Regions from separate parts of the Homo sapiens genome. Here regions 1, 2, 3, 5, 6 and 7 are each linked to region 4. The links come from fine-mapping of genetic effects on gene expression. A gene starts in region 4. Each other region holds a variant in brackets. All regions are shown on one strand. Distances are from middle to middle.

Region 1 (4,402 bases), 600 kb after region 4:
AGAGAGCCCGTTCCCAAGGGGGACCTTCTCAATCCCTGCAGGTTGGGGCTGGGGGTTCCCCACAGGCTCCGTGTCCCCCCGTGCCAGGGAGTCACAGCCTGTCCGTGAGGCGCTGCTCCTTTGCGGGGGTGTTCTGATTAGTCCTAGTGGCCTGGGGGGTGGGAGTGGGGGACCTCCATGGGGCGTCACCTGTGCCCAGTGGCAGAGCCTGTGCACACTGGTCCAGCAGGCTCGGGGCGTGGCTGGCCGGCACCGTCTCCCGGGCATTGATGACCTCCACCTTCCCTGGAGTAGGGCAGGGCAGGTGAGTGGTCATGGACCCTGCAGACAGCCCCTGGCCTGCTCTAGGCCTCAGTTTCCATCTCTGCATTATGAGATGGACTCTGGGCTAACACAGGGACAGGAGTTGACACAAGGGCTTTGCACAGCTGAGGCAAATGGGGCAGGGCAGGGGGCCCAAGAACACCCAGAAACGGGCTTGAGTTGATGGGACTGGCTGGAGAAGGGGTTACGCAGTGGTGTGGACAAGCCCATCTTCCCCATGGCAGTTCACATGTGGGCCCACCTGTTGTCACATTGTAGATGGTGAAGATGACCCCTCCGCCCAGGCCCATGCTCTGAGGGTTGACGACGCTGGTGCAGACCAGAGCCGCGATGGTGGCATCCACGGGTGAGCCCTGCTGCTGGAGGATGGCTCTAGGGGACATGGCACAGAGTCGCTGTGGGGCTCCCCTCCCCCTGCCTCCCCACCAGGCTTGCTCAGCTGGCACTCATTGGAGAATGGTGACGGAGGCGGCACGTCGGCTGCCACCAAACCGCAGATTAGGTTGCAGAACACAACCAGGCTTCCCCATCAAATCCAGCTGCTCACAGGTCCACAACACACTACGGTTGCAAAGTGTGATGCCATTTACACTGACCTTTGCCATATACAAGGTGCTTCTCAGTTTGCAAAGTACTTCTGTTGCCATTGTTCCCAGCAGCACCAGCTCATATGCTACAGGCAGAACGAGGCCTCGGCCACCTCTCAGTCCCTCACAGTGGCCTCAGGAGCCCACCCTGGGACTCCACTCCCCATCTCACTGGGGACACTCTGGCCACAACTACTTCAAGGCTGGCCTTTGGCAGGTGATCCCAGGATCCTTCCCTGCCAGCAGGGCATAGGGCTTGAGCTGATGGACCCCAAAACTTCTCTTGGGACTCTGAGCCTATGGAAATTCTCTGGCCTAGGCTGGGTGTGGTGGCTCATGCCTATAATCCCTGCACTTTGGGAGGCCGAGGCGGATAGATCACTTGAGGTCAGGAGTTCAAGACCAGCTTGGCCAACATGGTGAAACCCCGTCTCTACTAAAAATACAAAAATTAGCTGAATGTGATGGCGGGCACCTGTAATCCCAGCTACGCAGGAGGCTGAGGCAGGAGAATTGCTTGAACCCAGCAGGCAGAGGTTGCAGTGAGCTGAAATCATGCCACTGCACTCCAGCCTGGGCAACAAAGCAAGACTGCCTCAAAAAAGAAAAAAAAAGAAAAGAAAAGAAAGAAAGAAAATAAATGCTCTGGCCTACCCCTCCCCATCTGTCCATGGGCAGCAAGAGGTGGGCCCTTTAGCACTGAGGGCTGGTCAGCCTGGCCTACATTATGATGATCCCTGTCCCTGGGGCACAGGCCTGCACAGCTCACTGAGGTCAACCTCTTCCCTAACACCCAGGAATCCTTCCTCCCCAGCACCTCAAGAAGCCAGCTTTTTTTTTTTTTTTTTTTTTTTTTTGAGACAGAGTTTCAATCTTCTTGCCCAGGCTGGAGTGCAATGACACTATCTTGGCTCATTGCAACCTCGCCTCCCGGATTCAAGCGATTCTCCTGCTTCAGCCTGCCGAGTAGCTGGGATTACAGGCATGCACCACCACGCCTGACTAATTTTGTATTTTTAGTAGAGACGAGGTTTCTCCATGTTGGTCAGGCTGGTCTCAAACTCCCGACATCAGATGATCTGCTCACCTCGGCCTCCCAAAGTGCTGGGATTACAGGCGTGAGCCACTGTGCC[C/T]GGCCAGAAGCCAGCATTTAAGCCCCAGTTGCAGATGGGGAAACCAAGGCCCAAAGAGGGAATGGACCTGGGTCCCTGCACCCACCCCGTGGGACCTCTGGCCCTAGCACCCTCCTTTGGCTCAGGTGTCTGTCCTGACCTAGCATGTCCATCTGGACACAAACCCACCCCAGCTCCTGAGCCACATGTCCCTCTCTGGGCCCACACGTGGCACACATGGGCACCACAGGGACACATGTAATCTTGGAACAGGAAAGAGAGCACAAAGCCAGAAAATGAAATAAACAAGTCAGGCATAAACACTAATTTTTATAAGAATAAAACACCATAAACAAAGCCAAATGACAAACTGGGGGAAAAAACACTTTAAACTCCCATCCCAGACAAAGGCCTCACTTCCTAACTAAATGGAGTGCACCCTTGCTTCCCCAACCTGTCTGCTTCCAGCCTAGTCAGTTGTCTTGGCTTCCAGGGCAAAATGGGGTAAATGGTTACAGATGGGGAAACCAAAGCCCCAAGAGGGAATGGGCCAGGTCCCTGCACCCACCTCGCCCACCCTGCCAGGCTTTGGTTTTCGTCCCACCTCCCTGGTCTCCTGATGTTGGGGGCCCCAGGCTTGGTCCATGGTCCTTGTGCATCTATATCTTCTCCCTGGGTGAGTCCATCCAGGCTCATGGCATGAGATGCAACCTGTGTGATGGTAACTCCCCGACTTTAACTCCGCCAGTCCTCTCCCTACACTCGAGACACTTATACCCAGCTATGCACAAGGTACCCACTCTGGGTGTCTAAGAAACATTTCAAACATACCATGACCTAAACTGTACTTTTGATTTTCCTTCCAACCGTCCCTGCGAAATGGCTCCTCTCCTAGTCCTCGTTGTCTTAGAAATTGACACAACCACTCCCCCTTTTGCTCAGCGCCTACACCCTGGAGCCATCCTGGATTGGTCACTTTCTTCCTTCCCCACATCCAACCCACCAGTGACTCTGGATGCAGGTTCTACCTCCATCTCCACCACACTGGTCCAAGCCACCAACCTCTCTCAGCTGGGTTATTGCAATGGCCTCCTACCCAGGCCCCAGCGTTGGCCTTGCTCCCTTACATTTTAAAAAAATAATCTGTTAAGGCCGGGCGCGGTGGCTCATGCCTGTAATCCCAGCACTTTGGGAGGCCCAGGCAGGCAGATCATGAGGTCAGGAGATTGAGACCATCCTGGCTAACACGGTGAAACCCCATCTCTATTAAAAATACAAAAAATTAGCTGGGCATGGTGGCGGGTGCCTGTAGTCCCAGCTACTCAGGAGGCTGAGGCAGGAGAATGGTGTGAACCTGGAAGTCGGAGCTTGCAGTGAGCCAAGGTTGTACCACTGCACTCCAGCCTGGGCAACGGAGAGAGACTCCATCTCAAAAAAAAAAAAAAAATCTGTTAAACGTAAATCAGACTTCCTGGTAATGGGAGACTGTAATTCAGACCACACTTCCCTCAGAGAACTAGAAAAGCCCAGCAAATAGAAAACATGTGCTTAAAGGCATAGGAGGCAGAGAAGTACAGGGCTGGAGACAGGCAAGGCCAGCATTCCCCTCAAGGTGACGGCCAATCCTGAAGAGGAGGCTGAGAAATAGATCAGGGATTCTTTTTTTCTTTTCTCTCTTTTTTTTTTTTTTTTTGCTTTTTATTTTTCTGAGACAGGGTCACCATTACTTTTAATGGCAAAAACCGCAATTACTTTTGTACCAACCTAATATATTGCTCTGGCTGGTCTCAAATTCTTGGCCTGAAGCAATCCTCCTGCCTCAGTCTCCTGAGTAGCTGGGACTATAGGCGTGAGCCACCACACCTGGTCTAGAGCAGTGCTGTTGACCTACTCATGTGCTGAGGGAGGGGATGCCATAATGCCCCACACGTGGGGTGCAGGTTTCTTACTCTAGGAGTCAACTAGAAATAGAGCAGCCCTCAGGAGCACTGGATCCAGCTTCAAATCATCTCAGTCACTCAAATGCATAAAGGAGATCCCAGAATTTCAGATCCCTAGGCCTCAAATTATTTTATATTTATTTATTTATTTATTTGAGACAGCATCTCACTCTGTTGTCCAGGCTGGAGTGCAGTGCCTCGATCTCGGCTCACTGCAACCTTCACCTCCTGGGTTCAAGCAATTCTCCTGTCTCAGCCTCCCAAGTAGCTGGGATTACAGCCACCAGCCATCACGCAGAGCTAATTTTTGTATTTTCAGTAGAGACAGGGTTTCACTGTGTTGGCCAGGCTGGTCTTGTACTCCTGACCTCGTGATCTGCCTGCCTTGGCCTCCCAAAGTGCTGGGATTACAAGCGTGAGCCACCGCACCCGGCCTCTA
Region 2 (4,426 bases), 89 kb after region 4:
CAGGAAATAAAGGAGGAAAGGAAAGAAGGAAAGTACAACTTGGAAGAGGGCCAAGCAGTCGACCTGAGAAACCAAGTGCCCAGCTTGACCTCTTGACTCAGGGTTTCATAGGTTGGCATCGTTCCAGGATCTTGCCATTCCTGATTCCTTAGCTTGGGGCTCCGAACACACATTCTTCTTAGACCATAAAGTCATTCTTCTTTTTTTTTTTTAATTTTATTTTTTTGAGAAGGAGTCTTGCTCTTTCGCCCAGGCGGCACTGCAGTGGCACTATCTCGGCTCACTGCAAGCTCCGCCTCCCGGGTTCACGCCATTCTCCTGCCTCAGCCTCCTGAGTAGCTGGGATTACAGGCGCCCGCCACCGCGCCCGGCTAATTTTTTGTATTTTTAGTAGAGACGGGGTTTCACCGTGTTAGCCAAGATGGTATCGATCTCCTGAGCTCGTGATCCGCCCGCCTCGGCCTCCCAAAGTGCTGGGATTACAGGCGTGAGCCACCGCGCCCGGCCGACCATAAAGTCATTCTAAGGGTACACATCAGTTATGGCTGTTGGGTGCCTCTGCCATACAGAGGGGTCCCTTTGGTCCTAGGAACCTGGACTGGACACAGTTGTTTGTACGATTACTCCCCCACCCCATTTTTTCATGCTCGCCAAATCCACCTTCTGAGAATGGACCTTAATACTGGAAGGATACCCCAGTATAGTGAAAATAAATACATTCTAGGAACTGACAAGGCCTAAAGGCTTTTTCCCAAATGTTTATGCTTGTTTTCTTATTTAGTTATTTAGTTTTTTTTTTTTTTTTTTTGAGACAGAGTCTCGCTCTGTCGCCCAGGCTGGAGTGCAGTGGCACAATCTCGGCTCACTGAAAGCTCCGCCTCCCGGATTCAGGCCATTCTCCTGCCTCAGCCTCCCGAGTAGCTGGGACTACAGGTGCCCGCCACCATGCCAGGCTAATTTTTTGTATTTTTAGTAGAGACGGGGTTTCACTGTTAGCCAGGATGGTCTCGATCTCCTGACCTCGTGATCCACCCGCCTCTGCCTCCCAAAGTGCTGGGATCACAGAAGTGAGCCACCATGCCCAGCCTATTTTCTTTCTTTAAAATTTTACTTGTATATTCCTTTAGTAAAATGCTTACATGCTTAAATTAGGATATAGTTCACTGTTGATGAGGCAGCTTTAGGCCAAATTTAACAAAAGTAAGAAAAAGTAGGATGCCAAAGTTTATACAGTATGTAAAAATCAGTAATTCAGGACGGGCTTAGTGGCTCACACCTGTAATCCCAGCACTTTGAGAGGTGGAGGCAGGAGGATGACTGGAGCCCAGGAGTTTGCAACCAGCCTGGGCAACATAACGAGACCGCTGTCTCTACAAAAAATAAAAAAATTAAAAAATTAGCTATGTGGAGTGGTGCACGCCTATAGTCCCATCTACATGAGAGGCTGAGGCAGGAGGATTGATAAAGCCCGGGAAGCAGAGGTTGCAGTGAGCCGAGATTGTGCCACTGCACTCCAGCCCAGGTGACAGAGCGAGACCCCATCTCAAAAAAAAAAAAAAAAAAAAAAGACTAAAGGGTGCCAGAGAAGATGCCTTCCTTTTTTCCTTTTCCTTCTTTCTTTTTTTCTTTTTTTTTTTTTTTTTGAGAGTCGCGCTCTGTCGTCTAGGCTGGAGTGCAATGGCCTGGTCTCGGCTCACTGCAACCTCTGCTTCCCGAGCTTCATCAATCCTCCTGCCTCAGCCTCTCATGTAGCTGGACTATAGGCGTGTGCCACCTGGTTCAAGCAATTCTCCTGCATCAGCCTCCTGAGTAGCTGGGATTACAGGCGCCCACCACCACGCCCGGCTAATTTTTGTATTTTTAGTAAAGACAGGGTTTCACCATGTTAACCACACTGGCCTTGAACTCCTGACTTCAGGTGATCCGCCCGCCTCGGCCTCCCAAAGTGCTGTGATTACAGGCATGAGCCATCGCGCCTGGTGAATTCAAATATTTTTTACGTTTACAGTTGGTTAAGAAAGCAAAGCTTTATCTAAAACCTTGGGGTCAGCAGAAGGGATGTTAAGTTTTCACCTGTGAGTCTGATTCCCTCCAAGCCCCTCAGGAAGAAATTTAGAACAAAGAACTCCAATCAGAGTTCAGCCCTTGGTTCACCCTTATCTGAGGTCAACGTGAAAGCTGTCGCCATTTTTCATCTGGTTGAGGTCTGCGCTTCTGAAAAACAACTTAGGGACATTTGTCAAGATGTTATCTTTACTTTCTATAGGGGATCAAATATCTTGTGGCTCTAACCGACTTGGGTGGCTGTTGTTCTGAGCTATTATTACTTTTTCTTGTTTTTTGTTTTTTGTTTTTTTTTTTGAGACGGAGTCTTGCTCTGTTGCCCAGACTGGAGAGCAATGGCCCAATCTAAGCCCACTGCACCCTCCGCCTCCC[G/A]GGTTCAAGCAATCCTCCTGCCTCAGCCTCCCGCGTAGCTGGGATTACAGGCATCCGTCACCACACCCAGCTAATTTTTGTATTTTTAGTAGAGATGGGGTTTCATCACATTAGCCAGGCTGATCTCGAACTCCTGACCTCAGTTGATCTATCTGTCTCGACCTCCCAAAGTGCTGGGATTACAGGTGTGAGGCACTGAACCCAGCCAATTATTACCTTCTTCTCATCAAGTTGCTAATTTACTTCTCAAGATAGCTAGGTGCCCGGAATTTCCCTCGAAGGGTAATGTGGTTTGGGTATGTGCCCTCCAAATCTCATGTTGAGATGTGATTTCCAGCCAGGCGCAGTGGCTCACACCTGTAATCTCAGCACTTTGGGAGGCTGAGGTGGGCAGATCACTTGAGGTCAGGAGTTCAAGACTAGCCTGGCCAGTATGGTAAAACCTTAATTCTACTAAAAAAAAAAAAAATACAGGCCGGGTGCGGTGGCTCATGCCTGTAATCCCAGCACTTTGGGAGGCCAAGGCGGGTGGATCACAAGGTCAGGAGATCGAGACCATCCTGGCTAACACGGTGAAACTCTGTCTCTACTAAAAATACGAAAAATTAGCCAGGCGTGGTGGCGGGCGCCTGCAGTCCCAGCTACTTGGGAGGCTGACGCATGAGAATGGCGTGAACCCGGGAGGTGGAGCTTGCAGTGAGCCGAGATAGTGCCACTGCACTCCAGCCTGGGTGACAGAGCAAGACTCTGTCTCAAAAAAAAAAAAAAAAAATTAGCCGGGCGTGGTGGTGTGCATCTGTAGTCCCAGCTACTCGGGAGGCTGAGGCAGGAAAATTGCTTGAACCTGGGAGGCAGAGGCTGCAGTGAGATGAGATCACACCACTGCACTGCAGCCTAGGTGAGAGAGCAAGACTCTGTCTCAAAAAAAAAAAGAGATGTCATTCTCGGAATTGGAAGTGAGGCCTGGTGGCAATGATGGGATCATCCCCTTGGTGATGAGTGAGCTCCCACTCAGGTAGTTCCCATGAGATCTGGCTGTTTATAAGAGTGCAGCGCCTCCCTGTTCTCTCTCTCACTCCCTCTTTCACCATGTGACATGCCGTATCCCCTTTTGCCTTTGTGAAAAGAAAATAAATCTTGGGACCCCTCCTACCCTGACAAGTCACTAAGCCAAAGGGAAAAGTCAAGCTGAGAGCTGCATCAGGAAAAGGTAGGATAGGCATGATGGGGGCAGAGAGGGCTCTCCCCTCGCCCACTAGAAATGTCAGCAGATGGTTTGGCGATCATCCCATTGCCTCTCTAAAAGGGATAAATTGGCCGGGCACAGCACCTTGTGAGGCCGAGGCGGGCGGATCACTTGATGTTAGGAGATCGAGACCAGCCTGGCCAACATGATGAAACCCCGTCTCCACTAAAAATACAAAAATATTAGCTGGGCATGGTGGTGTGTGCCTGTAGTCCTAGTTGCTCAGGAGGCTGAGGCAGGAGAATTGCTTGAACCCAGTAGGTGAAGGTTACAGTGATATCGCACCACTGCACTCAAGCCTGGGTGACAGAGCCAGATTCTGTCTCAAAAAAAAAAAAAAAGTGACAAATTGGCAGCTGGCACCAGGAAAAGGCCATTGCCTGCTGGTCCACACCTGTTGCATTAAAGTATGAATTGAATGCAGGCACAAGGGAGAGGCACAAGGGGGCTTCTGATAAAATGTCAGGTATTGGATGAGTGAGTCCAGGCATGTGCAGTAAGAGACAAAATGGGGGAGTATGACCTTTCGGGGGCACTCCACCAGAAAAGGGAAGAAAGCCTTAGATGGGTGTGCACAGAAGTTTCTAAACACATAGCGGGTGCTCACCTGCCCCCTGTGGCAGCCCACCCTAAAGGAAGGAACATGGGAAAGAGGCCAGCCTATAAAGTCCTAGGGTCAAGGTTAAACACCGCACTTGACCTTGGTGCCCTCTTGGGTCTCTTCCAAGCGTACTTTTCTTTCCT
Region 3 (4,426 bases), 24 kb before region 4:
AATAATATTTTAATATGATATTTAAAAATAAAAATTAGGCCGGGCACAGGTTAATTATGGGCTCATGCCTGTAATCCCAGCACTTTGGGAGGCCGGGGTGGGTGGATAACTTGAGGTCAGGAGTTCGAGATCAGCCTGGCCAACATGGCGAAATGCCATCTTTACAATAAAAAAATTAGCCAGCCATTGTGTGCACCTGTGAGCCCAGCTACTTGGGAGGCTGAGGTAGGAGAATCGCTTGAACCTGGGAGGCGAAGGTTACAGTGAGCTGAGTTCACGCCACTGCACTCCCGCCTCAAAAAAAAAAAATTTTTTTTTTTGAGTGAGACCCCACCTCAAAAAAAAAAAATTAATTCAAACAAGTTCATGATGGACAAAATAGTAACCCTTTAGTGAAAGCTAGTGTCTGCCCAGGCCCCTCTAGGGGTTGATGTTCCTCCTCAACCCTCTGGCTTGTCTCCTCCACAGGCCTCCACATTCCATAAAATCTCTCACCCCTTACCTGCCCCACAGGCTTTTGGGGCTGGACTGACCACTTCCCTCCCAGGCTTCCAGCTCCAGCTGGGAGGAGCCAGGTGGGGCCTGTTTATGGGGGAGCCTTGCCTCATTGTACTTCTCCCAGTACCTGTACCCGAGCTGTGCCATGTGATGCCCCCCTTCCCATAGAGCCCCAGGTCCCTTCAAGACCCCTTGGCCAGAGCCTATGGCTTCCCATTGGCGTCGGTTGGGGCGCAGCTCTTTTTGGTGTGTGAGACACTGGCCTCCACTCTAGGTCTTCCATCTCGGAGTCGAACCCAAGCTCTTCTCAAAGGCTGGTCTGACCAGGCGTGAGTCTCCAACTCCTTTGAAATATTTGGGGTGGGAAGCGGGGGCTTTCTTGGCTCCCCTACTCTGGGGCAGTGGTAGGGAAGAGCGGAGGGTCTCCTGGTGTGCCTGGGCCCCACAGCAGTGAGGTGCGGGATCTCCCAGGGCTGGCTGCTGCCTCTCAGGCCACTGTGCCCTGCTACGGCAGATGCCCCCTGAGATGCCAGCGACCAAAGGCTGGCCCTCCCTGGGTCCTCTGCGCCTGCCCTCTCATTCAACTGCTGACATGGCTGTCACCCACCCACAGCCTCCTGCTGGCTTCTCAGGCCCCTGGCCAGGCAGCTTCGTGGGGTGATGGGGAACTTACAAGTTCTCCTGTCAAACCCACCAAGTTGCTCTGCAAAATCCTTCCTGCACCCTGCAGGCCAACCAGCATGGGAGGGGGTGTGGCCGGTCCACCCTCAGTGCCCTTTCCTGTTGTGCAGGGGCCCACGATGTCATCAGCAAGGGTCTGATCCGCTCACTGATGTGGAAGCTGTAGAGGGAGGAGCGTTCCGGGAGCTCGTCCTGGACCCGCTGTCTCCTGCCTGCAGGAGGATGCAGGAGAGGGTCTGGCACCTCCACCCCATGAGGAAGGCGAGAACAGGAGAAGCACTGGTGACGATCCTGACACCCAGTGGTCACTGAGTGTGTCCTGTGTGCCAGGCATTGTCTCCAAACCTCACATTTAGACAACCCTCCAGGGAGGCGATGTCTGCCTTCACAGGTGAGGAAACGGAGGCACAGTGTCTTGTGTCTCAGTCCAGGTCACATAGGATCACAGTCTACATCCTGGCCTCAAAACTGGGGGAGCACAAAGACTCAGAGCTTGCAGTGGTTGGGGAGTGTTCCCACACTGGGACCCTCATTGTGAGGATGGGCCAGTCACCGACCCCCAGAGTCCCTGCCTTGGCCGTGGCCATGTCCTCTTGCTGGCGGGGGCGGGGGGGGGCCTCTTGCCTTCCCTAAGTCCAGGTTTCTCTTTCTTCTGAGAGTCTCATTAGAGGCCCGGGTATTTCTCCAAGTGTGGCCCCTGAACCAGACCCTGGGTGGTCTGTGGAAATGCATGTTCCCAGGCCCCATCCCCGCCCCATCATTCTTAGGTTTGCACAGAGGTCCCTTTCCATGGGATCAGGAGAGTGGCTTTCCAGGAGAGAACTTTCTCTCTGAAAATGCAGCCTCCCCAGCCTCCCTGCATCCTCCTATGTCCACTGTGACCACCATCCTTGCCATCACTTTCTGTGTCATCCCCAAGGGGAGCTCCTGAGGACAAGGCTTTGCTCTGTTTGCTGCTCCAGACCCAAAGGTCACAGCAGGGGAGCTTTGGCCCCAAGTTGAGAATTACCTGGCCCAAAAGACTGCTGAGGTGGGGAAACCCAGCTCTTGCCTCAGCATCTCGCTGCATGAATGAATCAGGGAATCCCTGCAGCAGTGGGACAGGGTGGCACCTCCCTTTGAGACTCTGCAGGCACCAGGGTCAAAAGAGGGCTAGGGTGAGAGGGGGTGAGAAGAGGCCCCCCCAGGCTGTTAGAAATTCCGTGTTGGTGGCCTGCCGAGAAGTAGGTGGCCCTGGACGCACAAGCCATCAGCCTGCTCCTGAAGCTGCTACACTCATGCATGGGCAGGGTGTGCCTGAAGGCCACCAAGGCCCTCACCATGCTGCCAGAGGCCCCTGAGGGCTGCAAGGTCCTGCAGGCCCATATGCACACCTTCCGTGTCCTGGAGGAGGACTCTGACAGCAAGGCTTATGAGGGCGAGGCCTTATAGAAGGTGACCCAGATCGCCATCGATGTCATTGAGTGGAAACCCTGAGCCCCTCATTGGGTCAGACCTGATCAGCCACCTCTGCACCTGAATAAATGC[A/G]CTCAGTCTCTTTATTTCAAGTGGGAATGGCACTTTCTGCTCGTGGAGCACAGTCACGTCTCTTCTCACTCTCTTGCCAAAGGAGAAATGCCAGGCCCAGAAGCACTGGGTCCTGGATGGTACAGGCCAAACCTAGTGCTGGCGGTGGGTGGGAAGCAGCCTTGGACTTTTTCTCTCTGCTGGGACCAAGAGTTTTCCTCAGAATGTAGAGAGGATTGAGACCTCCAGGGGCAAAGCTGGGGACCCTGCAGCACGCGCTGGCCTGCCCTTTGGGTCAGCACCCTGGTCAGCTCCACAGAAGGGCTTCACCCTGGATGAAGAGATAATCCCTTTTTAGTGAGAGCAGGCTCCCAGCTTTGTGCACTATGACATCATCCCACTAAGCAGCCTCCACGCCAGCATCCCTGGGCTCCCGCCTCTGCAGTCCAGGCTGAGGAGAAATTACAGATGCGGAAACTCATCAGCCAGGGACAGAGGTGCCTCTGTTACAAGGGGAGGGCCAGGAACACAGCCTATGTTGGGACCTAGAAGTCCTGAGCCCCACACCCTTGCCTCCATTCTCCAAGGCCCATTTACCGTTATCAGCTTCTGGGATTTAAGAAACTGCTGTCGGGAGAGGTATGGGAGCCAGCCTGGAAGAGGCAACTGGTCATTCAACTGTAGCCCAGAGGCACAAACTGACACCCCAGACAGCTGAGTTTGGACAAGGGCAGAGGGACAGCCAGTGGCTATAAGCCCACACTATGGAGGGAGGCTGCTGTGTTGAGACCCCCAGCTCTACACTGACTGTTTATCTGTGGAGTCTGGGGCAAGTTGATTAACTGCTCAGTGCCTCAGTTTCACTAGCTCTAAAGTGGGGCGAGTAATTGTGCCTATCATAAATGGGTATGATTTTGGCAGTGCCGGGGGCATCATACTGAAAATAAGTGCCTTGTACATTGTGGGTACCCAGGAAGCCAGTTTACAGCCCCTCAGAGGAGACCCATCAGCAGGCATCTGAGGGAGCCTGGAGCCCTGCATCCTGCAGGTGCCTGGGGTCTTGTGCCCAGGAGAAGCTGCTCCCTCACTCCACAGCAGTCTACAGAGCACCCCCTGACCAGGGGTACACCTGTTTGTGCAGGTGTCAGCAGGGAGCCCTGGGCCTCTCTGGGCTCTGACTTTCCCTGGCAGGACTGTAGAGGGCCCAGAACCCTGCCTTCTCCCAGCCAGGCCCTTCCCTCCCTTCCCCAAACTCACGGCCTCCTCACCGCTCTCTGCCTCAGATTCAGGACTAATCTCACTATGTCCTTCATCCCTGTTTGCATCAGGGGCTGCAAGAAGCTCAGCTCACCTCTCCCTCAAGGCCATGAATACTCCTTTTCTGACCCCATCTGCTGCAACCTTTTCTCCAAGCCCTCTGGAGGCCCTCCCTGGAACATTCTTTCCTTTCTTGCTTGGACTGAAACCTAGCTCTCCCAAGACCTGCTTCCCCTCCCTGGGCATCCTCCTATGTGGGGCTGCTTTCCTCCCTCCCTGCCCCTCATGCCTTCACTGGAGTGGGACAGGTCCTTACGAACCATCTCCTATGCCCGTTCTGAGGAGCCCTCTGGTTCTGAATCCCTGCACAAGCTCTGTTGCCCTGGCCGTCTCTCCTCCCCAGCACCACACCACCAGATTGCTCTTGTAGGGCACGACGTGGTCTCCATGTGGCTGAGCCCAACCGCCAGTCCTCAGGCCTCAT
Region 4 (4,426 bases):
AGCTGACCAGAAGCCTGTGAGCTTTCTATGTGTATTTCACAGTAATGCCCATGCCAACGTCTATTGTTCCGTGTACCTTTTGCTACCCAGAGTTATGTGACCACTGGGGCCCCATCTGATGGTGGGCAATGTTTGGCACACTTATAGGCCATCCACTACCACTACCAGGGGCACGCATAGGTGCTGGAACTCCCTGGTGTGGGGTCATATATCACGGTGGAGTGATGACACGGTTGAGTAATGCAGACCATCAACATCGGGACCCATTTCTGGGTTCACTTTTGCCTCTTCCATTCAGGAGGTCAAAATCTGGGTTCATTCCTTTCCACACTCTCTCTCTCTCTAAGAAGTAGGGATATTAAACTGACCTTCAGGTACACTGTGTTGAGTGAAAAAGAGGTCATTTATGTAAAGTGTATGGTGGTGCTGAAGTTTTTCTTCCTTTTTATTAGAAGAATGACATGACTTGGGAGGCTGAGGTGAGAGGACCACCATAGGCCAGGAATTCAAGAAAACTGACACTTGCACTTGTGCTGGGCATGCGGGTCCACATTTTTGGGGGAAAACACACATTTACAAACACTACACATTAATTCACCCCTGGCTATCTCCCAACCCTCATGCACACAAACCCACATCATCTAAATGACACGGCTGTTTCCAGGGACTCTAGTGGATGATGACAGTTCTTCACTGAGCCATCTGTTTCTCACACTGCACTCCAGGTCCTCACTCCTATCAGGAACCTGAAGCCAGGCAGGCTCTCCAGACAGAAGCAGGGAAGAGAGTCCCCTGCGAACCATCACTTAGATTTGTCATCAGCAAAGGAGTGGTCTTAGAATACGTACGGTGTTAGACAGGGAATGATACACACTGGGGCCTGTCAGGGGGCAGGGGAAGGGAGAGAATATGGATAAACAGTTAATGCATGCAGGGCTTCATACCTAGGTGATGGGTTGACAGGTGCAGCAAACCACCATGGCACACTTTTACCTACGTAACAAACCTGTACATCCTGCACATGTACCTCGGAACTTAAAAAAAATTAAATTAGGAGCCGGGCGCGATGCCTCATGCCTGTAATCACAGCACTTTGGGAGGCCGAGGCGGGCAGATCACCAGGTCAGGAGATCGAGACCATTCTGGCTAACACAGTGAAATCCCGTCTCTACTAAAAATACAAAAAATTAGCCGGGCGTGGTAGTGGGCACCTGTAGTCCCTACTCAGGAGGCTGATGCTAGAGAATCGCTTGAACCCAGGAGGCAGAGGTTGCAGTGAGCTGAGATCCCGCCACTGCACTCCAGCCTGGGCAACAGAGCAAGACTCCATCTAAAATAAATAAATAAATAAATAAATAAATAATAAATAAAATTTACAAAAAATAAGCTACCTTAAGAGATGGAAGAAAAACAATCTGACCCTTAGCTGGTTCCTTCATTTAGGTACCAAACCGGCCAGATAGGTGAGGCTAGAGAATGGGATGGGGACTCCAAAATTGGGGTATTTGAATTTTCATTGAGAAAAGGGCTCTCCCTTTTCTAGATCAAAAAGTCTCAACGACAAAGACAGGAGGCAGAGTCAGCCTTTGTCCCCCATGCCCAGACCTGGGAAAGCTGGCTATGGACAGGAGGGAGCTGGAAGCTGAGGATGTCTCTGGGGATGAGGGTAAGGGAAGGGGGTGGGGGTGGCCAGAGGTGTGCCAGAGGGTAAACGGCACCCGTGGCTTTTTTACCTGTGGGCATCTTTTGGTTGCTGATGTGCTGCAGGTCTTGGCCCTCCGTGGCTCCCACATCCAGCTTGCCAGGCTCTACAGTAGTGGATTCTGATGTTGCAGCAGCCACAGTCTCATAAATATCAGTATCAGATTCATAACAGGGTGCGTCCTTCCCCCTGGGCCAGCCACAGTGGGAGTTGATACAACAGGTCAGTATATTCCCCATGGGGCCTCTCCATGCCTCTCCACTCCTGCCTCAGCCTTCAGCGAAATTGTAACTGTGCTGCCCTAGCAGCCACACTACTGAGGGTGGCCCTGCACTTTTAGAAGCAGCCTGACCCCAGGCAGATCTGGGTCCTCAGCCCTTATTCTGCCGCCACCTCCCAAACTAGCTGGTCTATGAGGTCAGGGACCTGCTGTCTTCTTTGAAAAATAAACGAACATGACAAGCACCCAAAGGTGCAAAAACTGCCATCAAAGAGCACAGTTGGAGCTCCTCCTCCCTCCACTGCGAGCTACTGACTGAGGGCTGCTGGCCCTGGCTGATGCTTATAACCCACAAAGCTTCCTATGTCACCTGGTTACCAGGAAACAGCCAGGTCAGGCTAGTGACTCACAATGTCCAGCCCCACAGCCCCCCCCAATGCCTCATAATGCCTGTCCCTGCTGCTGCCCACCTTGTGGCCCCCCTGCCCCTCTGTGGGGACTGCACTACTCAGGCTTTTATTCACCCTATGCTGCCTGAGCTTTCCAGTCCTGAGCTAAGTGCAGGGGGAGTTGTTATTGCGAGTCACCCTTGGCAAGAAACTCAATAGAAAACCCTGGTATGGCCGGGAGTGGTGGCTCACGCCTGTAATCCTAGCACTTTGGGAGGCTGAGCGGGGGGGGTGGATCACTTGAGGTCAGGAGTTCAAGACCAGCCTGGCCAACATGGTGAAAACTTGTCTCTACTAAAAATACAAAATATTAGCTCGGCCTGGTGGCGGGCACCTGCAATCCTAGCTACTCAGGAGGCTGAGGCAGGAGAATCGCTTGAATCCAGGAGGCGGAGGTTGCACAGTGAGCCAAGATCACACCATTGCACTCCAGCCTGGGTGACAAAGGTGCAACTGTCTTTAAAAAAAAAAAAAAAAAAGAAACAAAAGAAAGAAAACCCCAGTTACTAAAGTCAGTTCCACCAGCAGTTCTGTTTTTCTGAGTCTGACAGCTTTCATTTGCTCACCAAATGTAGTTATACACAAATTTTTTACTGCTTTTCTAATTAAATGCTTCTCTCCTGTCTTACAAGTGTTAGTTCTTGTCTGCAACTTGACCATAGCTACCCCCAGGGCCCTGGTCCCACTCTCAATAGAGAGTTATGGCTGTGTATCCTCAGTGAAACCCTGGGACACATCACACTTCCCTCCTCGTCTATAAAATAGGGACTGAACACATCCTTCCCAGTTCTGTAATGCTACGACCTACCAACTCCCTTTTCTCGCTCTGTTTCTTCTTTCCATGGCAGGGGTATTCAGATATTTCTTTTATTTACTTATTTATTTATTTTTTGAGATGGACTATTGCTCTGTCGACCAGGCTGGAGTGCAGTGGCACGATCTCGGCTCACTGTAACCTCCACCTCCCAGGTTCAAGCGATTCTCCAGCCTCAGCCTCCTGAGTAGCCTGGACTACAGGCACACGCCACCGCATCTGGCTAATTTTTGTATTTCTAGTAGAGACGAGGGTTTCACCATGTTGGTCAGGCTGGTCTTGAACTCATCTCAGGTGATCCACCCGCCTCGTCCTCCCAAAGTGCTGGGATTACAGGCATGAACCACCATGCCCAGCCTCAGGTATTTCTTTTACTAACAAATCATAAAACATTATTTTCTTATACAAAATTGAGAACCCCACAGTGGGGTACCATTGTCCTCATAGGACAAAGACAAATAGTCAATATCTGGCAAGCATTATGTGCCTGACAGTGTTCCAACTGTGGCATACTAATTTAACCCTCAGAAATAGTCCCATTTTACACATCTTACAGCGTAAATCTAGAGGGAAAAGTCAAGTAACTTCCCCAAGGTCCCACAACTGCTCAGTGAGTTCAGGCAGATGAGCAAACAAAGGCTTAGAGTTCAGTTGTCTGAGGCTACACTGCAAAACAGTGGATGAACCTGGAATACAAAGGCTCATTCACTGTCCAGCAGTAGAGTTGAAGTAGAGTTTAAGTTTTATTCTGGAAACATGAGAGTCACGGAACCACACAGAGGTGAGGAGTCTCTATCAGATGTGTTTGCAGTGAGGTCTCTCTGCACAATAGAGAAGGACTCATGGAACCAGTGGGACCAATTAAGAGACATGATGTTGGGAGGCCAAGGTGAGTGGATCATTTGAGGTCAGGAGTTCGAGACCAGCCTGGCCAACATGGTGAAACCCCATGTCTACTAAAAATACAAAAATTAGCCTGGCATGATGGCGGGTACCTGTAGTCCCATCTACCCAAGGGGCTGAGGCAGGAGAATCGCTTGAACCCAGGAGGTGGAGGTTGCAGTGAGCCAAGATCACACCACTGAACTCCAGCCTGGGCAACAGGGAGAGATTCTGTCTCAAAAAAAAAGAGAGAGAGACATTATGTTCATCTGGAAGAACAGATAAGGCCAAAGGAAGTAGAAATGACTGAAGTGGACAGAGAAGTTCTGTGATCATTTGGCAGAGAGAACAGAAAGTGC
Region 5 (4,426 bases), 100 kb after region 4:
TAGTAGAGACGGGGTCTCACAACGTTGGTCAGGCTGGTCTCAAACTCCTGACCTCAGGTGATCCACCCACCTTGGCCTCCCAAAGTGCTGGGATTACAGGCATGAGTCAGCGTGCTCAGCCTATTATTACTGTAATAATATTTGTCATGCTGATCTATGACCGGTGATCCTTGATGTTACTATTGTATCAGTGCAAAAGTAATTGTGGGTTTTGTCATTAAAAGTAATGGCACTAGGCTGGGCCCTGCTCAGTAGCTTATTTGGTAAGCCGGTGGGTCCTGAAAGTTTGCTTTTTTTTTTTTTTTTTTTTTGGATATGAAGTCTCATTGTCACTAGGCTGGAGTGCAGTGGTGCGATCTCGGCTCACTGCAACCTCCGTCTCCCGGGTTCAAGCAATTCTTCTGCCTCAGCCTCCTGAGTAGCTGGGACTACAGGTGTGTGCCACCACGCCCAGCTAATTTTTTTGTATTTTTATTAGAGATGGGGTTTCTCCATGTTGGTCAGGCTGGTCTCGAACTCCCGACCTCAGGTGATCCGCCTGCCTCGGCGTCGCAAAGTGCTAGGATTACAGGTGTCAGCCACCACGACCAGCCGAAAGTTTGCATTTCTAGCAAGTTCCTGGGCAATAATTATGATGGCCAAGAATGACAGTCTGAGAACGACTGCTCTGGAAGATTTTATCTGTGACCCAGAGCTTTGACCCTTTTGGGGATTTGGTGTGTCATGTCCTTACTGCTGGAGTTTGCTTTAGTTAACAAAATCTGTCATTGCTCCCAAATCACTTGGTAGGGGTTATTCATTCTTCCTTGAGTTGAGCTTCTTTATCTTTGCTGTTAATAAAATGTAAGTTTCAAACATTTCTTTTTTCTTTTAGGGACAGGGTCTTGCTCTGTTACCCAGGCTGGAGTGCAGTGGTGCCATCACAGCTCACTGCAGCCTCCCACTGCTGGGTGTGGTGGTGGGCGCCTGTAGTCGTAGCTACACAGGAGGCTGAGGCAGGAGAATCGCTTGAACCTGGGAGGCGGAGGTTGCAGTGAGCCGAGATCGTGCCACTGCACTCCAGCCTGGGCGACAGAGTGAGACTCTGTCTCAAAAAAAAAAAAAAAAGAAAGAAAGGAAGGAAGCAAGGAAGGAAACAGAAAAGAAATGAAGCCTGACTTCAAGAAGTTCCAACATAGCATGGAGGAGGAGTGCAGGGAGCACGAGGGCGTGTGGGGGGGCGTCTCTGTTGGGAACTCAGGGAAGATGTTCTTGATCTGATTAATTATTCAACCAAAATGACAGGCTGGATTCTAGGCACTGGGAGTACCCTGAAGGGGCTTCTAGTAAACCTGTCCTCTGCATTGGGTCTTGGAAGATAGGGGGAATTTGCCCAAGGAAGAAGGGGAAAAGAACATTGCAGGCAGAGGGAGAAGTCTGGACAAAAAGGGTGACTGGCCTGCTTGAAGAACAGGAAGTCATCCAAGTGGCTATAACTATAACAAAAGGTAGGGAGGAGACGTGGAAAGAGTTTGGGGGAAGGCTGTGAAGAGCTTTGAATGTCAAGAGAGGGAGTTTGATCTTGGTCCTTTAGGTCATAGGGAGCCCCAGTCAATTTTAAAATCAGAAGAGCCAAATTTATTTTATTTTATTTTTATTTATTTATTTATTTTTAGACGGAGTTTCGCTCTTGTTGCCCA[G/A]GCTGGAGTGCAATGGCATGGTCCGGGCTCACTGCAACCTCTGCCTCCCAGGTTCAAGCGATTCTCCTGCCTCAGTCTCCCAAGTAGCTGGGATTACAGGCATGCGCCACCACGCCCAGCTAATTTTGTATTTTTAGTAAAGATGGGGTTTCTCAATGTTGGTCAGGCTGGTCTCAAACTCCTGACCTCAGGTGATCCACCCCCCTCGGCCTCCTAAAGTGCTGGGATTACAGGTGTGAGCCACTGCTCCCGGCCAAAACCCCATCTTAAAAAAGAAAGAAAGGAAGGAAGGAAGATAAATCTAGCTATAGTATTGAGCTATATGGGATGGAACAGAGGGAGAAAAAGAGACCAATGGCTGGAATGTGTTGTGGTTTGACGATTTCTAGCCCTGGCTCAACTTAAGAATGGAATTACTTGGAGTTCCCAGAATGGATCCAACTGTTTCAAGCCTTCCTAAATGCTCTTCCCTGTGCCTGGGATGCCCTTCCCTCAGTGTCGGTCTTGCTACCTCCCATTCATTCATCAGTATTCTAGCCAAACATCATCAATGTCAGGTAGGCTCCCAGTTGATCCAGGTGTCCAACTCTGGGCTCCCATGTGATCCTGAGTAGTACGGGCATTTAGCGATCTTTTCCTGATTTGGGAGCACTGTAGTAGTGCCTTCTGGGCCTTCTCCACCACCCAAGTGGTAAGCTCCTTGCAAGCAAAGCTTCGTCTGACACATTTTAGTGTCCTGACTCCAAGCCCTCTCCTGTCTTCCCCCACAGAAGCCCTAGAACTGGGCTGCAGCTGACCACTGGGAAGACAGGAAAGACTGTGAGACCAACTGTATGCCATGTGGTCCTGAAAAATGCGAAAATGGAGTGGCAAGTCCTGAGAGCCACCAGCTAGTGTCTGAGGCCTGGCATCCCTTTCTGGGAGGCCTCGTGTGAAAGCCAGTGGCATTCTGCAGATGTGAGGTCGTACTTCTGAATACGCAGCAAAATCCTGGGGCCAAATGCTTTGACAGATGAATTGAGGCTAGAAAGAGAGTTGGAGAAGTGGTTTGACAGCAGGGCTGTAACCACAATACCTAACATGGGTAAGTCACCAGGTGGCAGGCTCTGAGCTAAAATTCATCTCATTGCATCTTCATGACAGTACTGTTTATACATAAAGAAACAGAAGCTGGCCGGGCATGGTGGCTCACGCCTGTAATCCCAGCACTTTGGGAGGCCGAGGCGGGTGGATCACCTGAGGTAGGGAGTTTGAGACCAGCCTGACCAACACGGAGAAACCCCGTCTCTAATAAAAATACAAAATAAGCTGGGCATGGTGGCGCATGCCTATAACCCCAGCTACTTGGGAGGCTGAGGCAAGAGAATCGCTTGAACCCGGGAGGCAGAGGTTGTGGTGAGCCGAGATCTTGCCATTGTACTCCAGCCTGGGCAACAAGAGCAAAACTCTGTCTCCAAAAAAACAAAAGAAAAAAAGAAAAAAAAAAAAAACAGAAGCTGCAAAGGGTTAGGGGTTAGAGGACATGCACACAGGCACCCAGGTAGAAGGGGACACTCAGTCTGGCTGCCCAGATGACAGAAGAGAGATTGTCAGTCCAGGTTTCTTTGCAGCAAACAGCAAGCTTGCAAGCTTGGTATGTGCGGAGGCCACGCTGTAGGTATGGGGAAGAGAACTCAGGAAGAGGAGAAAGACAGGAAAGCAGCATAAAGGCTTGCAAAAAAATTAAAAACAAATAAAAAGCAGATGAGTCAAAAGAGTCTGCAGCTGAGTCCCTGACAGTCGACACTGAAATGGACATAAGCCTTTATCCTGAGGAAGCATCCTTGGCATTAAAGACTCATAGGAGGCCCAGGCGCAGTGGCTCATGTCTGTAATCCCAGCACTTTGGGAGGCTGAGGCTGGTGGATCACCTGAGGTCAGGAGATAGAGACCGGCCTGGCGAACATGGGGAAACCATGCCTCTACTAAAAATACAAAATTAGCAGGGCATGGTGGCGCATGCCTGTTATCCCAGCTGTTATCCCAGCTACTTGGGAGGCCGAGGCAAGAGAATCGCTTGAACCTGGGAGGTGGAGGTTGCAGTGAGCTGAGATCACGCCACTGCACTCTAGCCTGGCAACAGAGTGAGACTCCGTCCCCCAAAAAAAAAAAAAAAAAATTAGCCAGGTGCAATGGCGCGTGCCTGTAATCTCAGCTACTTTGGAGGCTGAGGCAGGAGAATCGCTTGATCCTGGTTGCAGTGAGCCGAGATCGCACCACTGCACTCCAGCCTGGGCTACAGAGCAAGACTTCATCTCAAAAAAAAAAAAAAAGAAAGAAAGAAATACTTCAAAACACTAATAGTGTAATAATCAACTGCACCTGATAGTTTGCTAAGCATGTTTGCATTCCTTATACCACTGAGGCCCCCAAGGCTGTGAGTGTCATCATTCCCCCATGTTATAGCTTAGGACCCTGAAGTCAGAGGCTGTAACTTGAGGAATGGGCTCAGGGCAGATCTTGGCACTGAACCCAAATGTGACAAGAAGAGAGACAGGTGGGCCCAATGGCAGACCTCTAGTCTATCCAGAAATGACACTCCACATATGGTTAATAACTCCTAGAGATGGGAGTGAGGGGTGAGCATGGCTTTTTGAGGTTAAATTAGTTAATATATATTAAAATATTAAAATGAAAATAAATTATGCCTTGCTCAATAGTATTAATGATAGAACTTCTCGTACAAAAATAAATTACAGAAAGAACCA
Region 6 (4,251 bases), 25 kb after region 4:
AGGCAGAGGTTGCAGTGAGCCAAGATCGTGCCACTGCACTCCAGCCTGGGTGACAGAAGGAGACTCTGTCTAGGAAAAACAAAAATTTTGCAGAAAATATGTTGAGACAGGATCTATGTTGCCCAGGCTGGTCTTGAACTCCTGGGCTCAAGCAATCCTTCTGCTTCCGAAAGTGCTGGGATTATAGGCATAAGCCAAGGCGCTGGCCACATCTATGTTTTGAAAGCGGGCAGAGGCCAGGGCATGGGACAGATCGGGGAAGGGTACAGGGCACCTGGGAAGTAGTCCTAGTGCCCAGGACTGGGGGGGAGGGTGGGGTGGAGGTGGGCACGTCACTTGACTGACATCCTTTTTGTGGAAGGGACTCTACAATGGCCAATAGGGACATATGTCCTCCTCTGTCCCCCTGCAATGCCCCAGACCTCTGTTAACCACCTGGCCTGGGGCCTATTATAAAAACTCAGGGTTGGGAGGCCCAGATGGGTGGATCCCTTGAGGTCAGGAGTTTGAGACCAGCCCGGCCAACATGGGGAAACCCTGTCTTTACTGAAAATACAAAAATTAGCCAGGCGCAGTGGCGGGCAGCTATAGTCCCAGCTACTTGAAAGTCTGAAGCAGGAGATTCACCTGAACCCTGGAGGTGGAGGTTGCAGTGAACAGAGATGGCACCATTGCACTCCAGCCTGGGTGACAGAGCAAGACATCTTCTGAAAAATAATACAGTACCTATGTGATAGCCTTGTTTTGAGCATTCAATCAGGTAACATTTGCAAATTGCATGCATAACATGGTGCCTGGTGCTCAGGAAGGAATTGGGAAATGCCAGCAGTTACTAAGGGAGGGCAGGCAGGGGACAGGACATGTTTCAGCTCCACTCCTGGTTCTTGTGTGCACCCAGAGACCTCTACCGTGCTCTGGCCCTGAGCTGTGAACTGACCCCTCCATGCCCAACAGCCCCAGCTGCCAAAGGACTCTGCCCTGCAGAGGGAGCCTCCGCCCCCACCCCGTCTTTTGAGCTGGTCCTGCCCCTTACCCCACAAGCTGCCCCACCAAGCCTAGATCTCCAGCAAAGCACTAGGTGGGGCCTGGATCTTTCTGATCACTGGGGCCAGCCAGTCAGAATTGGAGCCAGCCTGCCCCTCAGCTGGGAGCCTGGCAGTACCTCCCCCAGCGGGGTCCTGGGCCACCCTGCCTGTATTATTAGTAATAAAAACTGCTAAATATGCAAGGCTGCAGCCAAACCAATTAGTGCCAACCTACAGGAAGGCCTGGGGCAGGCTGAGGTCACCTGGAGTGCTGGGCTGGTCCAACGGCAGACCACTCTGCTCTAGGACCAAGCGCCTATCCTTACTGGCAGGCATAATAGGATGCCACTGGGAGATCAGAGTGAGGTGCCTCCCCTTGGGCACTGAGGAGAAGGGAGGCCCAGTGTGGTAGCAGAAGGTGCTGCTCCGAGCCAGGACACTTCTGGGCCAGAATGGTCTCTTCAGGGCCAGGGGATGGGGCACTGAGTTGGGCTGGGTTGAATGAGCAACAGTCAAGGTCGAATGTACACGGGAAATATCAATTTTGGTTTTGGGGTTTGTTTTTGTTTGTTTGTGTTGGTTTGTTTTGAGACAGAGTCTGGCTGTTGCCCAGGCTGGAGTGCAGTGGCAAGATCTTCACTCACTACAACCTCCACCTCCCAGGTTCAAGCAATTCTCCTGCCTCAACCTCCCGAGTAGCTGGGATTACAAGCGCTTGCCACCACGCCAGGATAATTTTTCTATTTTTAGTAGAGATGTGGTTTCACCATGTTGGCCAGGCTGGTCTCAAACTTCTGACCTCGTGATCCACCCATCTCAGCCTCCCAAAGGTGCCGGAATTACAGGCATGAGCCACTGCACCCAGCCCGCCTGGCCCATTTTGTTTTTCTTTTCTTTTCTTTTTTTTTGAGATGAAGTTTTGCTCTTGTCACCCAGGCTGGAGTGCCATGGCATGATCTTGGCTCACTGTAACCTCCACCTCCCGGGTTCAAGTGGTTCTCCTGCCTCAGCCTACATAGTAGCTAGGATTACAGGCACCCACCACCACCCCCAGCCAATTTTTGTATTTTTAGTAGAGATGGGGTTTTACCATGTTGGCCAGGCTGGTCTGGAGCTCCTGACCTCAGGTGATCC[G/T]CCTGCCTTGGCCTCCCAAAGTGCTGAGATTACAGGTGTGAGCCACCCCTCCCGGCCCCTTGCCTGGCCCAATTTTTAATATATTACAGGATTGTGGCAACCTTGTGTTGAGCTAGTGTAGTATTGGTGCTATTTTTCCAACAGCACGTGCTCACTTGGTGTCTTTGTTCAACATTTCGGTAATTCTTATTGCATTTCAATAATTCTTATCGCCTCCCAAATTGCTAGGATTACAGGCGTGAGCCACGGCTCCTGGCTGTTTTTTTGTTTTTGTTTTGTTTTCTTTTGTTTTTTTTGAGATGAGATGGAGTCTCACTCTGTCTCCAGGCTGGAATGCAGTGGCACGATCTCGGCTCACGCAAACTCTGCCTCCCGGGTTGAAGCGATTCTTCTGCCTCAGCCTCCCGAGCAGCTGGGACTACAGGGGTGAGCCACCACGTCCGGCCTGGCTGTTTCTTTGTCCTCCTCCTCCTCTTCCTCCTCCGTTTCTTTTTCCTCCTCCTGTTTCTTTTTCCTCCTCCATTTCTTTTTCCTCCTCCTCCTCCTCCATTTCATTTTCCTCCTGCTCCTCCTCTTCCATTTCTTTTCCCTCCTCCTCCTGCTCCATTTCTTTTCCCTCCTCCTCCTCCACCTCCTCCTCCTCCAACTCCTTCTGCTCCGTTTCTTTTTCCTCCTCCTTTTTTTTCCCCTCCTCCGCTTCCTCCTCCTCCTCGTAGGCACGAGACACCATGACTGGCCTGGTTGTTTCCTTTTCCTCCTCCTGCTCCTCCTCCACCTCCCAAATTGCTGAGATTACAGGCATGAGCCACTGCACCTAGCTGTTTCTTCTTCTTTTTTCTCCTCTTCCTCTTCCTCCTCCTCCATTTTATTTTATTTTTAGATATGGAGTCTCACTCTGTTGCCCAGACTGGAGTGCAGTGGCCTCACTGCAACCTTCACTTGCCTGGATTCAAGCAATTCTGCCTCAGCCTAACAAGTATCTGGAATTACAGGCAGCAGCCACCATGCCCAGATAATTTTTGTATTTTTAGTAGAGACGGGATTTCACCATGTTGGCCAGGCTGGTCTCCAACTCCTGACCTCGTGATCCGCCCACCTCGGCTTCCCAAAGTGCTGGGATAACAGGCCTGACCCACTGCGCCCAGCCCGCCTGGCCCGTTTCTTTTGTTTTCTTTTTTTTTTTCTTAAAACAGAGTTTTGCTCTTGTTGCCCAGGCTGGAGTGCAAAGGTGCGATCTTCCCTCACCGCAACCTCCACCTCCCGGGTTCAAGCGATTCTCATGCCTTAGCCTTCCGAGTAACTGGGATTACAGGCACTTGCCACCACGCCTGCCTAATTTTTGTACTTTTAGTAGAGACAAGGTTTCTCCATGTTGGCCAGGCTGGTCTTGAACTCCTGACCTCAAGTGATCCGCCCTCCTCGGCCTCCCAAAGTTCTGGGATTACAGGCGTGGGTCACTGCGCTGGGCCTACAGCTCATTTCTTACCACATAAAGTTTTGCGCCTCTCCACAAAACTGCCATCAGGGATGTCCCCAGAAACCATTCATCCCAGGCGCCACGCAGAGAAGAGCTGCTTGTTCTCCTTTTCCCTTTACCTCTTCCATCTCACCTCATCTTGTTCATTCATTCATCCCTTTTCCATTCTCACTTTTAAGCGTTAACCTTTCAAAACCCTGTTTTCCCCTATAAGTAATGTCTTGTAACTCCCGCAATCACCATATCCTTCTCCAACCCACCAAACTGCCATCCTGAGTTTATGGTAAGTCCATAAACTAAGAAGAAATGGGAAACATTCATTGCAAACCTGGCAGCCCCTCATCCACCCAACGTGACAGCACAGATGTTCTTGTCTTTGAAGACCCCCTTTTTTTTTTTTTTAAGACAGGTCTCACTCTGTCACCCTGGCTCAAGTGCAGTGGTGTAATCATAGCTCACTGCAGCCCCCAACTCCTGTGCTCAGGCGATCTGCCTGCCTCAGCCACCCAAGCAGCTGGAACTACAGGAACACACCACCACACCTAGCTAATTTGCTTACTTTTTGTAGAGAAGGGGTCTTGCTATGCTTAGCAGACTGGTCTCGAACTCCTGGCC
Region 7 (4,426 bases), 600 kb before region 4:
CTCTAAAGACAAACCAGGTTACAATTCCCTTCCTGATGTTTTTAGTTGATGCCCTAATGGAATAGGTTTCTTTTTCTGTTCTGACACACAAGTTCTCTTCTGATTGTCAAATTATTGGCTAAAGGGAGCCCCTGCTGGTCCCCAACATTATAAAGCCCGACACCAGTTTTTAGTTTTCTGCTTTCTGCATTTGCTCCAGATTGGAGAAATTTAAGAAAAATCAAAAGACACGGAGTTAAAATGAGAGAGCTGACATTGCCTGGGGCAATGTTGAGGCAAATTACGATAATGATTGACAAAAGGGCCTGAGGCCCTTCACCCAGCCCCCCTGCTGGAAACCCAGATTCACTCTCACCAGGGAAGATAAAACGGTCTGGGATAGAGAAGAAATGTTCCTAGAACAAGAACGTAAAAATATAAGGGACCTGAAGCTATCCCTGCAGTAATGGAAATAATGATGCCCAAAAGAGTTCCATGAGAAAACAAATGGTTTATGTAAGATCTTGCTTCCTGGAAAATGCAAGGAGAAGATACTTGCAAGCAGGGAGCTTCTTTTCCCCCTTAGGATTAACACTGCATGAGGAGCTGCTAGATTCTACAGTGCTTGATAAATAGCTCTTCCCTGACTGACAAAGAGCTGCTTAGTTTGCGGATGGCCGTTCCTAGGTGAACAACTGACATCCTATTTGGAAGGCTGCTACTCTGATTGTGAAGTATACTTTTATGAACAGAATTTACCTTTCTTGCTACCTGAGTTCCCCTAAATTCGGTAACTATTCATGAGTATCCTTATTTTATGGCAATATACTTGTTTGCATAAGTTCGGTTAAGAGGACATAATTGGAGACACTGGTTATTTTACCAAGGCTTTGACTAAATAATATATTTTTAGGAGTCCCAGCAAAGCCAACTTGAAAAGAGCCTATGTGGCCAATCAATTCTTGTTGAACTTTATGCACATAATTAGGCCAAGTATAAGCCTAAAACTTAACTTACACACAAATTGGCCTTACCATGATTTCTCTTTAGTGGAAAAACAGGGCTAGAGAGAGAAAAATTATGTTTCAAAAGGAAAACTATTCACACACCTGTTACTAGATTGCAGCCCTGACCTTTGTTTCTGAGCACAGATTAAATCATGAATTATTTCTTGGCTATAACAGTCCTCTAAAGACAAACAAGGTTATGATTTTCTTTATGTTTTTAGTTGGCATTCTAATGGAAGAGGGTTATTTTTCTGTTCTGACACACAAATTCTTTTTTGATGGTCAAATTATTGTTATTTAGGTCACATAGCTTTACTTCTTCTGAGGAAACCAGAATTATGGTATTCTGAAGGCTAGAGACAATTTGACAAAGCCCGTGAATCTCCCTCATTTGAGATCCTGCTGGGCCCGATGTGTTTTTCACTGCCAATGCCCTGCTGCTAAAACTATACAAGCACCTGGCTGGGCACGGTGGCTCACGCCTGTAATCCCAGCACTTTGGGAGGCCGAGGCAGGCGGATCACAAGGTCAGGAGATCAAGACCAGCCTGGCTAACACCGTGAAACCCTGTCTCTACTAAAAATACAAAAAAAATTAGCAGGGCGTGGTGGTGGGTGCCTGTAGTCCCAGGTACTTGGGAAGCTGAGGCAGGAGAATGGTGCACCGATTTCCACATGCAAAAGAAAGACTCTGAAACCCTACTTCACACTATGCACAAAAAGTCATTTAAAATAGATCAACAGCCTATGCCGGGCACGGTGGCTCATGCCTGTAATCCCACCACTTTGGGAGGCCGAGGTGGGCAGATCACGAGGTCAGGAGATCGAGATCATCCTGGCTAGCACGGTGAAACCCCGCCTCTACTAAAAATACAAAAAATTAGCCGG[G/T]CGTGGTGGCGGGCGCCTGTAGTCCCAGCTACTCAGGAGGCTGAGGCAGGAGAATGGCATGAACCCGGGAGGCGGAGCTTGCAGTGAGCCGAGATTGTGCCACTGCACTCCAGCCTGCGCGACACAGCAAGACTCTGTCTCAAAAAAACAAAAAAAGAAAAAGAAAAAGAAAAAGAACGTTAAGGGTTGATGAATGCCTGTCCACCTTTATTCCTGTCTGGCTCAGAACATTTAAATTATGTCTTTTAGCTCTAAGTCTCTTGGCTGTAGGAGTCCCACTTAGAGACAGAAGGGACCCATGGCAGGCAGCCACACCACCCCAGCAATGCTGTGGGACGAAATAAAAGTTTGGTGGCTTGCTGTTTTCTCTGGGAAATCTTGGCCAGAAGGAGGAGAATGTAAACCAAAAATAAAATTCTAAGCCCTACAACTTACTGATGGACACCCCTCTTTACCAAGGGCATTCCAAAGTAAACCTGAAAAGCTAGTTGAGGCCATGGTGGGAAGTAGAGGTCAGACATGCTTCATTATTCCCTCCTCTTTTTGGAATTCGAGCATAACTAACCAGCATTAACATTAAAACAGAGATCTTAAGACTGACAATACAGACTTCTTGTAGCAATAAGACATCAAATTCCTGGCTGACTCTAGTATAGCATCACATGACAGATGGCAGGCCCTGAAATAAAGTATTTTAGCCCCAAACATGCTTCTTTGACATATTTTGAAATGGCCCTGCAAAGCTGTCTCTTCTGAAGGAAATCTACATTCTGTAGAAAGTCCCCTTCCCTTGCCAGGTCTTTTCTGTGACCCAAGAGAATTAACTAAGAGTCTGGCACCTTTTAGGTCTGATAAGAGCTCTGAAGTCTTCATCTACATGACAAAACCTTGGTCACCACAATACCTTATTTTAACCCAGACATTCCTTTCTATTGATTCTAGGTCTTTAGGTAATAACTCTTTAACCAATTGCCAATCAGGAAATCTTTAAATCCACCTATGACCTGGAGCCCCTCCACCTTCCCTGCTTTGAGTTGTCCCGCCTTTTTGAACTGAACCAATGTACATCTTACATATATGGATTGATATCTTATGTCCCCCTAAAATATATAAGACCAAGCTGTAGCCCCACCACCTTGGGCACATGTTCTCAGGATCTCCTGGGGCTGTGTCATGAGCCATTGGTCACGCATATTTGGTTCAGAATAAATCTTTTCAAATATTTTGCAGAGTTTGACCCTTTTCATCAACACCATGTTTTGCAAGAGAGTCATTGAGCAGGTGGGTGTTGGCATGGCCACCGCATGGACCAGGGTGATGGGTTGCCTTCACATTGTAGTTGTCTTTGCAAGTGTTGCCCTAGAAGGTTCTATTTCACCTCATGGGTTTACACCCTGGCATCATTTGCTTTCTGAGACATGATTGTCTCCAGGCCAGGGTTGATCCAAGCTCCTTCTTGCTCATGGAGGCAGAGAGCTCTTATTTGTTTTCCTCCCTTTGTAGTGTAATCTGCTTTTAGCCATGCCATAGATTATGCAAAATTGTAAATGGTTCTCTCTCACACAATTTGGCTGTAGGAAAATATTATTCTGTGGCCTCTGTACACGGACGCGTCATGCTTAGAGATTTCATGCCCACAGGGGATGCATAGCAGTGGGCTCCTTCCACCTTCCCTGCAATGAGGAGGTAATTATTTGACCATCTCTTTCAGCCACACTTAACACCAAAGATCCCAACTAATGGCTCGATATTTTATCAATAAGACTGAAAGTGTAGCTTGTCAGATATTTTCTTTCTTTTTATTTTTGAGTCTTGTATTAAATCTTGTTTCCCCTAACAGCACTGCATAGCTGGGCATCGCAAAAGCACAGCACCGGAGGCTCTGTGATCTGGTCCTGCCTGCCTCTCTGGCCTCACTCTCTGCATGCACAGCCCTAGGTCCCAGCCACTCCAAACGCTCACAGTGCTGATTACTGAATTGTCGTGTACCTTCTCTGGCCTTTCTTCATTGGCAGAGACTGTTTTCTTTGCCAGAAATATTTTTTTACTCCTCCACCTGGCCAGCGCTTCCTCCCTTGAGTTCAGTCCTCTAAACCAACCTGCCAGTGCTCCCTGCACCACCCAACTTAACAGGACTCAGCTTAGCACCATGCATGTGGAAGGAGAGCACTAGGCTTCAGGGATGCCAGAGCTGCCTCTCTTTGCTCTCCCTGGGAAGGGCATGAGCAAGAGGGCAGGCAGTAATGGGACTCTGCCTCCCACCTGGGATGCCAGCCTCAGGGTATTGGAACCTATCACCACAGAAAACTGGAGGATCCAGTCAGTGGCTCTCCTGCTACCCATGGTCTGAAGTTGCGGGCACATTGCACATACTTTCCTGGATTAGAGAACTCTCCAAGCCCTCCCTCCTGCCCTGCTTCAGAGAGCATGCCAATTTGGCTTCTGCCCATCTCCAGCAATGGTTCCTGTGGATCCTCTGCCTAGCAACAGGATTTACCAATGGATCAGTGGCAGGGCAGAATAGAAAGGAACCAGGGATGGCTCCCAGAGGAT

Evidence for each region. PIP is the estimated chance that this variant, and not a neighbour inherited with it, causes the effect.
Region 1: its variant is fine-mapped to the expression of DRICH1 in cerebellar hemisphere (GTEx, PIP 0.92).
Region 2: its variant is fine-mapped to the expression of DRICH1 in cerebellar hemisphere (GTEx, PIP 0.99).
Region 3: its variant is fine-mapped to the expression of DRICH1 in testis (GTEx, PIP above 0.99).
Region 5: its variant is fine-mapped to the expression of DRICH1 in cerebellum (GTEx, PIP above 0.99).
Region 6: its variant is fine-mapped to the expression of DRICH1 in tibial artery (GTEx, PIP 0.98).
Region 7: its variant is fine-mapped to the expression of DRICH1 in uterus (GTEx, PIP above 0.99).

What each region holds. Positions count from the first base shown.
Region 1 is chr22:24,233,309-24,237,710 of GRCh38, forward strand. GGT5 (gamma-glutamyltransferase 5) reads right to left here. Exons shown (of 12, transcript NM_004121.5): 2 at 566-696; 3 at 190-285. Among named protein-coding and RNA genes, the nearest start is that of GGT5, 9.6 kb to the right of the region's middle. The variant C/T (reference allele first, on the strand shown) is at 2,045.
Region 2 is chr22:23,718,863-23,723,288 of GRCh38, forward strand. No RefSeq gene overlaps it. Among named protein-coding and RNA genes, the nearest start is that of ZNF70, 30 kb to the right of the region's middle. The variant G/A (reference allele first, on the strand shown) is at 2,437.
Region 3 is chr22:23,605,753-23,610,178 of GRCh38, forward strand. DRICH1 (aspartate rich 1) reads right to left here. Exons shown (of 12, transcript NM_016449.4): 12 at 2,700-3,016. The coding sequence ends at 3,012. Among named protein-coding and RNA genes, the nearest start is that of DRICH1, 24 kb to the right of the region's middle. The variant A/G (reference allele first, on the strand shown) is at 2,707.
Region 4 is chr22:23,630,083-23,634,508 of GRCh38, forward strand. It overlaps DRICH1 (aspartate rich 1), which reads right to left and starts at 2,239. Exons shown (of 12, transcript NM_016449.4): 1 at 1,734-2,239. The coding sequence starts at 1,941. It overlaps LOC124905089 (a long non-coding RNA gene), which reads right to left. Exons shown (of 3, transcript XR_007068021.1): 3 at 2,794-2,828. RefSeq lists a silencer at 3,278-3,415.
Region 5 is chr22:23,733,718-23,738,143 of GRCh38, forward strand. No RefSeq gene overlaps it. Among named protein-coding and RNA genes, the nearest start is that of ZNF70, 15 kb to the right of the region's middle. The variant G/A (reference allele first, on the strand shown) is at 1,680.
Region 6 is chr22:23,655,092-23,659,342 of GRCh38, forward strand. It overlaps the pseudogene GUSBP11. Among named protein-coding and RNA genes, the nearest start is that of DRICH1, 25 kb to the left of the region's middle. The variant G/T (reference allele first, on the strand shown) is at 2,160.
Region 7 is chr22:23,029,401-23,033,826 of GRCh38, forward strand. No RefSeq gene overlaps it. Among named protein-coding and RNA genes, the nearest start is that of GNAZ, 39 kb to the right of the region's middle. RefSeq lists enhancers at 1-843, 1,366-2,141. The variant G/T (reference allele first, on the strand shown) is at 1,874.